3 linked regions of the Homo sapiens genome follow. The protein of the gene in region 2 interacts with the protein of the main gene of each other region in a biochemical or structural test. Each region holds a gene or a part of one and is shown on either strand. Other genes may lie near its edges.

Evidence for each region.
Region 1: the proteins of IGDCC4 (region 2) and IGFBPL1 interact in a biophysical measurement, tested with the Homo sapiens proteins (one large-scale study listed by IntAct).
Region 3: the proteins of IGDCC4 (region 2) and LTF interact in a biophysical measurement, tested with the Homo sapiens proteins (one large-scale study listed by IntAct).

Annotation. Positions count from the first base shown.
Region 1 is NC_000009.12:38,407,455-38,411,102, reverse strand, and holds part of IGFBPL1 (insulin-like growth factor-binding protein-like 1 precursor), read left to right. Parts: intron 1-1,885; 3' UTR 1,886-3,648. UniProt on the Homo sapiens protein: IGF-binding proteins prolong the half-life of IGFs and have been shown to either inhibit or stimulate the growth promoting effects of the IGFs in cell culture. They alter the interaction of IGFs with their cell surface receptors.
Region 2 is NC_000015.10:65,420,000-65,424,273, reverse strand, and holds the start of IGDCC4 (immunoglobulin superfamily DCC subclass member 4 precursor), read left to right. Parts: upstream 1-1,326; 5' UTR 1,327-1,411; coding exon 1,412-1,481; intron 1,482-1,871; exon of another isoform or gene 1,872-2,219; coding exon of another isoform or gene 2,220-2,328; intron 2,329-4,274.
Region 3 is NC_000003.12:46,438,017-46,441,044, reverse strand, and holds part of LTF (lactotransferrin isoform 1 preproprotein), read left to right. Parts: intron 1-1,564; coding exon 1,565-1,749; intron 1,750-2,915; coding exon 2,916-3,028. UniProt on the Homo sapiens protein: Transferrins are iron binding transport proteins which can bind two Fe(3+) ions in association with the binding of an anion, usually bicarbonate. Lactoferricin binds to the bacterial surface and is crucial for the bactericidal functions.

The sequences.
Region 1 (3,648 bases), on a different chromosome or scaffold from region 2:
GTATTCTTCTAGAAAGAGCACTGAGAGAGGTAGCAGACAGTGTCATTGTGACAGCGTCCATGTGAAAATGTTCCCACAAAGAAGATGCCTGAGCTTCCTTTGTGTGTTCCTGGAGCTCTTCCTTGTTCAGGACACCTGAGCTTCCTTCCTGGGGCTCAGGCCTTGCCTTCCTGTCCTCAGCACTGTGTGCTGCTTTGCAACACATCTCCTTGTGGGTAGGGGCAGAGAGAATCTCTGCATCCCCTCTGGTCAAGGCCTCCTAGTCTGTAGTCACACAGGTGACAGCTGGGGTTGCATCTGTTCCTTGCCTACAGGTGAACTGGGAATTCGGGAAAGGGATCACTTTATAAGCCAGCTTTTGCTCATAAAAATCCCAAAATCTTGCTGGTTCACAGCCACAGACGTTGATCACTTGCTCATGTTCCATGTTATAGCTGTGAGCTGGCTGTGGCCCTGCCCCATGTGTCCCCTCATTCAGGACCCAGCTGGAGGAACAGCTCCAGTGTGGAACATGTCCGTTCTGTGGCCAGGCTGCACACACCATTGCATTTAAAGTTTCTGCTCGGATGTGATGTGTGCCCCGCCCATTTACAGACCAATCATTTTTTTTTTTTTTTTTTGAGACAGAGTCTCACTCTGTCACCCAGGCTGGAGTGCAGTGGTGCGATCTCGGCTCACTGCAAGCTCTGCCTCCTGGGTTCACGCCACTCTCCTGCCTCAGCCTCCCGAGTAGCTGGGACTACAGGCACCCGCCACCACACCTGGCTAATTTTTTTGTATTTTTAGTAGAGACGGGGTTTCACCGTGTTAGCCAGGATGGTCTTGATCTCCCGACTTCATGATCCGCCCGCCTTGGCATCCCAAAGTACTGGGATTACAGGCGTGAGCCACCGTGCCTGGCCTGCACGATCCTCTTACAGGAATGGGGGAGCAGTGGTGAACAGGCACCATTACCAAGGCTGATCAACAGGTGCTTAATAGAACAGGAAAAATTAGAAACAAGTCTGATAGGGTTTCTCAAAAGCAGGGGGATTTTGCCATGGTTTTAGTTATATTATTCTTTCAGCCACTACTGTTGCACACCTTCTGTGTGCAAGGCCTTACTTCTGGTCTGTAGGGGATCACAGAAAAACAAAAAGTGGACATAATTATAATACAAGGAGTGCGATGTAAGGGAATGGGAGGAGATATTAAGGCATGAAAAGCAGCTTAGAACTGGGGAAAATGAAGGAAGAATCATCGAGGAGGTGGCATGAGGATTGAAGGATGGGTGTACGTGAGTAGTTAGAGGCCCTAGAAATGGGGAGAAAAATATGAAAATGTAAAACTGTGAAATAGGAATTCAACAAAGAGTTAGGAGATTGGGTCTTAAAATTGTCTTCCTGATGATATGTGACTTGTTTTATATAGATATGTTTCCAGTTTTAAATATATATATCTATAATTTTCAAATACACGTATATTTTGAGGCAGAAATGATTCTGGGTTGTGAATACATCAAAAGGATACCATGAAAAATTGTGGAATTTTAAGAGCATCACTGCTGCCTAGGTCTTGAGTTCCTTCTGTGACACACAGTATTGCCAGCTCTGGCTTACATACCTCCAGGGATACAGAGCTCACTACCACTGAGAGCCATCTGTGGATTTTCCAATGGTTGAAAAGATCTTATTAAGCTGGAGTCTGCTGCTTTGAAACGTCCACCTTTTGGTCTTAAAAGTACTTCTTGGGACTCCACAGGGCCCTTCACTCTCCACTGGCACCATTTCCTGCTGGGGAGAGATTCGAAGTGAAGGATCATTTCCCCCACCTTCCATGTAACACATAGTTGATTGTAACGGAGCAGGCTTACGTTCTCTAATTCTTTCTCTCCTTTTCTTCCTAGGGTCTTAGAAACATTGATCATGGGATGATGGAAAAGTCAAATAACGGATCTTTGTGCTTCATGAAGAGTTGGAAAACCTGTGTGTGTAGATGACCCCTTTTGTGTGTTTTTAAAAATTAGATGCAAACTAGATCTGTATGCAGATGTAGTTTTTAGCAGGGCAAACAGTGAGAAACGGATTTGCATGTGGCTTTTTTATACTTTTGAAATGAATTGTTCCATGAGAAGTCTTTTTGTAATTATTCTCTTCCAGGGAGATCACAGAACGGCATGTTTGCAATTTCGAAAGGGCTCGTGTCAGCTGTGACTCTTTACCTCATTTGTCTATGACCTATTAGTGGTGCTCTGTGACTTAGTGTGTGTTGTAGAAGGAGGGATGAGGGTCCCAGCTGTCCTCTGCCTGACTGTAACTTGCTGTGTGACCTGAACAGATCCCTTCCCCTCTCTGGGCCCTGGTCCCTTCATCTGTGAGTATGGCATTTTAACTGGATGTTATCAATGTCCCTTTTAGCCCTGCCATCCTAGATTAAGATGGCCTTTTGGGAAAATAACAGGAAGTGTGGTCTTAGTGTTCTTTCTAAAATGGTATTCCCTCAGAAACAAATTCCATTGCTTTACCCCAACGTGTGGACAGCTGGCTGTAGCTCTTCTATTCCTAACTTTTTCCCTTTGAAGGAGATTTAGTTTTAGGTGGGATGCTTTACCAGACTCAGGAGCGCCTTGGCTGGGTCTTTGGAGACCAGAGCATCCATTTGTTAGCCTAGCATTCTCTTTTTTAAAATTTTATTTTGAGACAGGGTCTCGCTCTATCACCCAGGCTGGAGTGCAGTGGCGTGATCATGGCTCACTGCAACCTCCACTTTCTGGGCTCGAGTGATCGTTCCACCTCAGCCTCCTGAGTAGCTGGGACCACAGGCATGCCCCACCACACCCAGCTATTTTTTTTTTTTTTTTTTTTTTTTTTGTAGAGACAGGGTCTCCCTATGTTGCCGCCCAGGCTGGTCTCAAATTCCTATGCTCAAATGATCCTCCTGCCTTGGCCTCCCAAAGTGCTGGGATTATAGGCATCAGCCACTGTGCTTGGCCTAGCCTAGCATTCTCTAAACAGGTGGTTAGAAGCGGTGGATACCAGGCTTCTGACGATCAAATTGTAAAAAAAGGGGTCAGGTGTTATCTCCAGACTGTGGAATTAGATTGTAGTAGAATATATTTTACCTACAAACATTTTGACCTCACCCAAGAGTAAGGCTCTCTTTTTTTTCTTTTTTAATGAAAAAAGAAAGGAGAATATTTGCTATCTTATCTTAAAAAAATAGATCCTTAGGTGATTACAATTTTAAAATAAGAATTGAGAGCCCTTACTATGCACAGTCCTTTAAGTTCATAAAGCTTGATCCCAACTCTGGGAGATGGGGCAGGACAGGTGTTAATGTCCCTGCCTTTAGCAGATGAAGAAACCAGGCTCTGAGAGGAGAAGCTACTTGCCCAAGGCCTGAAGGCCTCTGAAAGAGGAGCAGAGCTCAGGGCACCTGGCCCTCCTTGGTCCCCTCTCTACTCCACGGTGCTGCTACTCAGGGTCATCTCAAAACTATGTAAAGGCAGATGTTGCCAATCCACAGGCTTCAGGGACTCTTATCAAGACTCATCCCAACTTTTAAGGCACACTTTCACACCGCTCACATTGTGCATTACATTTTGGAGTCCTTGTTGGAAGTGAACTTTCCGCCTGTAAGCCTGCCATTCCATGTCTAATATATTGGGAT
Region 2 (4,274 bases):
GAAGTCCAGGGTTCAGGAAAGATGGTCTAGGCTGAAAGTATACATTTGGGCATCATTAGCATAAAGATGCTCTTTAAAGCCTTGAGGACCAGATGAGATCACTAAGGGAAGCAAGTGTTTCAAGGAAGAGGGAGTGATTCACTAAGTCAAATGCTGCTGATAGGGCAAGTGAAGATGGGGCGTGGCAATGAATGAATAAACGCCAGGCCTGTTAGATATGCAAAGCGCCAGTGATTATTGAGGGTTAACTGACAACAGACAGGTGTAGAGACAAGATGGCTCTAAGTCACAGGAACACTTAGAGACACAGGGAAGGGAAGAACTATGGCATCTTGGAGTTGGAAAGGACCTTAACTAGGTCATTGAATCTGTACTCTTTTCCCCACCCTAGCCTGACAATTGAACCCTTGGCTGTAGAACAAGAAATATTTGCGGGATACTGAGGCAAACAGTCTGGCTAGGTAGGTTAGAGAAAGTACCGTTGAAGAATGAGAAAAAGGGTACTTCAGTAAATGCTGGACAGCAGAGGCAGGGTGAGGGAGTGGAGATGACCTTCCGAAGTCAGAAAACCAAGGTTCAGGTCCTGTATCTGCTGCTCCCTAGCCTCCTGTCCTTGGGCAAGTCACTTCACCTTCTCCAGCCTCAGTTTCCCCATGCGGCGACATCTGAATATGGTAGTGCTTGAAGGTAGTGTAAAAGTGTCCTGCCTGTGTTAGTTACTGCCAGAGCAAGGGAAGGAGGCCAAGAGAAGCCCTTGGTTTGGGATGGCAGATAGGACTATCAAGATCTCCGCAGGTGGGCTGGCGCAACGTGTGGAGAAGCGAACCAGCATTCAGGCCAGGACCTGGGCTGGAATGGACTGGGCTCGGGTGGCAAGGGGGCCATCTGGACAAAGACCGTGGCCCTGAATCTGCCTCCCCTGAGCCTGGAACGGAGGTGGAGACCCCGAGGCAGCAACAGGGAGAAGAAATAGAGACGCTGAGGCAGAGAGACCAGAAGACTCAGAGACGGGGAGACTAAGAGACAGACCCAGCAACAGGCGGCCTCACGGGGGCCCGCGGCGACCCGGAGAGGGCGAGGCACCGGGACACAGACCCGGGCCGAGAGGAGCCCCCGCGAGGCGCAGGGCCGTGGCGCGCGGGCGCAGGGTCCCCGGCGGGGCCAGGGTGGCCACACTCGCCGGGCGCCCCCTCCCGGGCCGCTCGCCCAAGATGGCGATGGAGGGGCGGGTGAGGCGGCAGCGGCCCTGGCCCCCGCGCCGGCCCCAGCTCGGGCCCGGGCCCCCGAGGCCGCGCCCCCGCCCGCGGCGCCGCGCCTCCCCGGGCCACTGACGCCCGGCGCGCTCTCCCCCCGCGGCGGCGGCCGAAGCACGGGGAGGCGGCGGCGGCGGCGGCGGCCCGAGCCCAGCCCCATGGCGCGGGGGGACGCCGGCCGCGGCCGCGGGCTCCTCGCGTTGACCTTCTGCCTGTTGGCCGCGCGCGGTAAGGGCGGGCGCCCGGAGAGGCAGGAGCGACTGCGGAGTGCTGGTGCGCCCGCGCCCTGGTCTGCATCGGGCTGCGGGGCTGGCTCAAGCCGGAGTCCCGAGCAAGTGCGGGGGCTGCGCGTCCAGGTGCCCGCGATGCCTGCGCGGGGGTCTGCGAGCTGCGGCCGGGGGGCGTTTGTGGGGCGTGCTTGTCCGCAGTGGGTGTGTGCCTTTGGTTCGCAGAGTCTGGAGTCGTGTGTGTGTGTGTGTGTGTGTGTGTGTGTGTGTGTGTTGGGAGTGCTCCTGTCGTGTCCGCAGTGCGTGCCATGGTCGCGGCGTGGCATCGGCGGGGCGGGTAGCTGCGGTGTCGGTGGCTTTCGCGGGGCGGGCTCTGCCTTGCCTGCGCGTGTCTTGGGTTGAGAGTGTGTGTAAAAGAGGAGGGAACTGGGGTTGTGTCTGCACCTCCATTTGGGTCGGGTGCGTGTGCAATTGTGTTTATGGGGCTGAGCTAATATTTGGCCTTGGCATTTGGGAAGTGTCCTTGCCCATAGTGGGGGACAGAGCGATGGATCCCGTTTGACTGGGGGTGGTGGTGATAAAACAACACTCAACTTTGCCCAGTGGGTGTGGTCCCTGGGGCCGGTTAGAGAGGGGTAGAGGGAGGTGTTGCTCCCCAAAACCTGTGGCCAGCAGTGGACTGGGGGAGGGGGCAGGAAACCATTTGCTTTCGTGGACATGTCCAGCGCTTGTTCTCACGATGGGACGCGTGTCACCCCGGCCCCACCCCCCAGGGACCGACCAGGGAAGCGTGGACGAGGTCAGCAGGGCCTCATCCAGTCCGCAGCCCAGTGCGGAGTGGGTACGGGGTAAGTCAGAGTTGTCCAAGCTGGAGAAAGGGCTGGGGAGGGGATAGCGAAGTCCCCAAGGGTGTGTGTCTAGGGCTGCGGCTTCCACCCACAGCTCTGTCGCTTCCTGTCCGGTGTGCGTTTGGGGGCGGCTCATGGGGAGTGTAGGTGGCAGGGCTGGGAGGGGGATGGGCTGGCCGCTTTGTTCGCCTAGTTCTTGCCTTCCCCGCGGAGGGGGGAGCTGAGGATGTGTCCGGGGAGAGTCGGGGAGGGACTTGGAGGTGGGGGTGGGGAGGGGGATTTCTCTCCAGCTGCTGCGGCTTTCCAGAGAGACTCAGCCAGGCCACGTGGGAGGGAGGCGGGGGGAAGGAGCCTCCGCCTGGCCAGCCCCAGGCCCATCTCCAGGAAAACCAAACAGCGGGTGGGAAAGTGCCGGGAACTCCTCGGACCCCTTCTGTCCCTACAAAGACACGCCCCTTTCCAGCCCCAACAGCGGATTAAGCTGGAGGCCGCCGCGAGGCTGGGTCTCGGCTGCTGGGCCAGAGGAGCTGGAGGCCCTGGCTTGTCAGGTGAAAGGGGCGGGGAAGTGTCAGAGAGAGGTCTGTCTTCCCAGAGCTCAGGGGATTAAGGAATAGTTCCCCTGCCCCACCTTCCGCTATTCCTAGGGCTCCTGGAACGAGCTCAGGGTCACCCAGCTAAACGGCATCAGGGCTGGGAACCGCACCGGCGCATTATTCAATACCTTTAGGACCTGCCGCGAGGGACCCAGCTTCCCTGGCCTCTCCCTGCTCCCGAACGCACAAAGCAGGCGAGGGACCGAGTTGCGGCGTCTCTTGGTTGCAGTGTGAGTGGCTACAACAGCTTGCCCTGGTCCTCCAAATCTCAGCAGGCCGGGGGACACTCCAGTCGAGTCATGACTAGCCACCCTGATCTGTACTGAGGTCATTCATTCGTTCAACAAATATTTATGGAGCACCTTTTATAGGCTAGCTTGTGCCTAGTGCCTAGAATATAGTAAATAAGGAGGCAGACCTGATCCCTGGTGCAAAGCTTTCAGTCTGGTGGAGGGGGAAACTGACAAGTCCCCTGAAGTGCTGGGGAAGACGCAGGAAGGAGGGGCTCCTACACCGATCTGGGAAGGTCAGCAAAAGCTTCCTGAAGAAAGTGATGAGTAGTAGAGCTCGACATGGAGTTAGCCCTGTAGAAGGAGAATGATGATGGGGACAGTTTTCCAGAGAACAGCATGTGCAAAGTTCAGAGGTGATTTAGTTGAGATCATTGGATTAAACTAAATCTAGCTGGAGTTTAGGGACAAGGGGTGGATGGGGGGCAGGTGAGGGAAGCATGGAAAGGGGTCAGGGAGTATCAAGACAGGAGGCTGAAGAGGGGAGCTAGATCCAGCTCACAAAGGGCTTTACAGGGCCCACCAAGGTTTCTGGCCTGAGAGTCCCCATGAGCCCTTGACAGGATTTAAAATCAGCTTTGCATCATCTCATTCCAGCCAGTGTGGAGGATGGATTGGGTGGGGCTGGAGGCAGGAAGCTCCAGCTCCTTCGAGGCTGTTGTAGCAATCCAGAAGAGAGGATGGTGGCAGCTAGCATAGTGGCAGTTGGGGTTGGGCTGGAGTGGCTGCATTCCAGAGATTTTCAGGAAATAGAATCAGTAGAACTTGAGGATAGATTGAATTTGTAGGGGGCGAGAGAGAGGAAAGTAAGAAATAGGCCGGGTGCGGTGGCTCACGCCTGTAATCCCAGCACTTTGGGAGGCCAAGGCGGGCGGATCACGTGAAGTCAGGAGTTCAACACCAGCCTGGCCAACATGGTGAAACCCCATCTCTACTAAAAATACAAAAGTTGGCCAGGTGTGGTGGTGCATGCCTGTAATCCCAGCTACTCGGGAGTCTGAGACTCGAGAATCGTTTGAACCTGGGAGGTGAAGGTTGCAGTGAGCTGAGATCACGCCACTGC
Region 3 (3,028 bases), on a different chromosome or scaffold from region 2:
ACAAACTGGGTGAACATATGCAAATGAAGCCTCCCTTTATGAAAAAGGAAGTAGAGGCCTTCATTCATCCCCATGTGAGCCTTGGTCTGGAGACTCCTTGGGAGTTAGTGGGAACAAAATTACAGGTGGTTGCAGATGATGGAAGATAATCTTCCAGCCAATGTTTGAACAATCACTCTCTCTCCTGGTCCTCAGCCATTTGCTACCTTCCAATCTGCATCTGTCTCCTTAGCCCCACTTCAGCATTCCAACCCCCAAGTCTCAGCAGGTGACTTGCTATTCTGTTTCCTGAGAAAGAACTGTCTCCACTTTCGGCCTCCCTCCTTCAGTAATCACTGCAGTCTCAGCCACTTCTCCCTTCTGCTTCTGCTCCTTCTAGTGTCTCTTGGGACAGAGATTAAAACAAGACATGTAAATTTGAAATTATTTCAATATCAAATAGAGGAATCCAAGAGAATGAATAAAGTGCTTTCTTAAAGGGAGAGAGCAGAGAGACAAACGGGAGCCGGAACAATGAGCCGGCATCTGCACAAACATAGACATGCATACAATTACATTTAGAATTTACAAGCCATTAACTGAAGTAATCTCCAGGGATCAGATTGATGTCAAATTTAATTTTAACTTTCTCCGGTACTTTACAACTGTATTTTGTTAGAATTGGCTGTATATATTTGATAAACCTATAAAAGTTCCTTTCCTTTCTCTGGTTACACTAATAGCATTTGAATATGAAAGGGAGGAGAAACCAATTTCTCCTTGAATGTAAACCATCTATTCTTTTTCTGGAACTCACTGAAAAATATGGCATAGGTGGAGGGTTTTCTTCTTTAAAAAAATAAGAACTCTAAACAGCTTTATTGAGGTAGAATTCATATACTAAAAAATCCACCCATGCAAAGTGTACAATTCAGTGATCTCCAGCACATTCACAGAGTTGTGCAGCCATCAACACAATCCAACTCTAGAACGCTTGTATCCTCCCATAAAGAAACCCTTGCACCTATTATCAGTCATTGCCCTATCCTTCTTCAGCATTGGCAACCATCAATCCACTTTCTGTCTCCATAGGTTGGCCTATTCTGGACATTTCATATAAATGGAGTCATATAATATGTGGTGGGTTTTTTTTTTTGAGATGAGGTCTTGCTATGTTGCCCAAGCTGGTCATGAACTCCTAGCTTCAAGTGATTCTCCCACCTTGGCCTCCAAAGGGCTGGGATTACAGGCATGAGCCACCGTGCCCAGCCTATTGTGTGGTCTTTTGTGACTGGCTTCTTTCACTTAGCATCGTTTTCGAGGTTCATGCATATTGCAGGATGTACCAGAACTTCACTCCCTTTTATTGCTGAATAACATTCCATTGCATGGACACAGCACTAATATTTGGTATATTTGAAGTTTGTACAGCTTGTGTAGGATGAAGCTCCTTCTCTGTTCCTCACATCACCACAACCCCAGTGTGTGCATTTGGGAGGTCAGTGGAATGGCCACACCCACCCAGAAGAGACTTCTTGGCTAAGCAGGGGAGGCGTGGATGATGCCACCTTCTTTTTCTCCCCAGGAAATAACAATGAGGCATGGGCTAAGGATTTGAAGCTGGCAGACTTTGCGCTGCTGTGCCTCGATGGCAAACGGAAGCCTGTGACTGAGGCTAGAAGCTGCCATCTTGCCATGGCCCCGAATCATGCCGTGGTGTCTCGGATGGATAAGGTGGAACGCCTGAAACAGGTGTTGCTCCACCAACAGGTATGGACCACAGGGCTTCTAGTGCTTTCTTAGCTGTGTGGGCTCATGTTAGGTGAGGAGATCACAGAGCTAGGTGCACCAGCCCACTCGATCCTCTCTAGTCCTCTACTTGAAGCTCATGGTGAGAGTATTGGCTTCATGCTGTGGCGTTGCCCAGAGTGTCAACAAGAACAACAGAGGCTTTTGACTCTGGGCTTTCTGGGACTCACTCCATTTCTGCTGAGACTCTGTGCCCTGGCCTTGTTGCCATCACTGCCTGGCTCAGAGGCTGTCTTTTTCCCTCCTGCTGTTCTTCTGGCAAATGAGGAAGCCACTGAGCCTTCCTCCCACATGCATTAGTATAGTGCTTTTTACTCAGGTGACATTTCCTGAACCTGGGCCGAGTGAACAGTGCTCTAGGCCAGGCCTCTAAAACAGCAAACTCAGAAGGTGCCCTATAGATTTAGGGCTCTCTAAATGTGATTTGAACGAAATCCCAAAATTTTCTTAAAATCTGGGATTTTATTAGAACTTCTATTTTTATCATATAACATCATGTCTCTGTGTGCTTTTGAAGAAAACAACTCAGGAATAACAAGACTGGCCACCATAACTGGCCTTTATGGAGCTCTTAATGTGCACACACAGTGGTGCTGGTGAGAGAGCTGCCGTGACTGAGGGGTTTGGGTCTCAGTCTCCCCACATGGGAGCCTGGGACAGAGCAGGAACTGTGTGAGGGAGGCAGGGTGACCGACCTGCACACTGAGCTGGTTAGTGGCTGAGCCTGGGTTTTCCTAGCAGCCTGCCTCTCTAGAAGAGCTGCATATTAGAATGTCCTGAGCAATTGACTTGTGAGGGCAGATCTCAAAACCCCTCCATTGTTGCCTTGTCACCCATAAGAAGTTGTATGGGAAAAGGTCACAGGTTAAGAAGGAAGGAAAGATGGCAGATGGTAGGAGGTAGGACCAGAAGTGGTGCGAGGCCTGGATGCTGCCCAAGGCGGGCCTGCCACCAGGAGTGTGGGGTGGGGGACTCCACTAAGGAGGTGGAATGACTCCAGAACTCAGCTCCTTCTGCCCCATGGTTTTCTCAGGGCTGTTCTTGGGTGGAAGAAATACCCCTTTGCCTCCTTTAACCCATAAATTCCTCTTTTCCTTAGCTACTCACTGTCTGCCCTTTTGTCGCAGGCTAAATTTGGGAGAAATGGATCTGACTGCCCGGACAAGTTTTGCTTATTCCAGTCTGAAACCAAAAACCTTCTGTTCAATGACAACACTGAGTGTCTGGCCAGACTCCATGG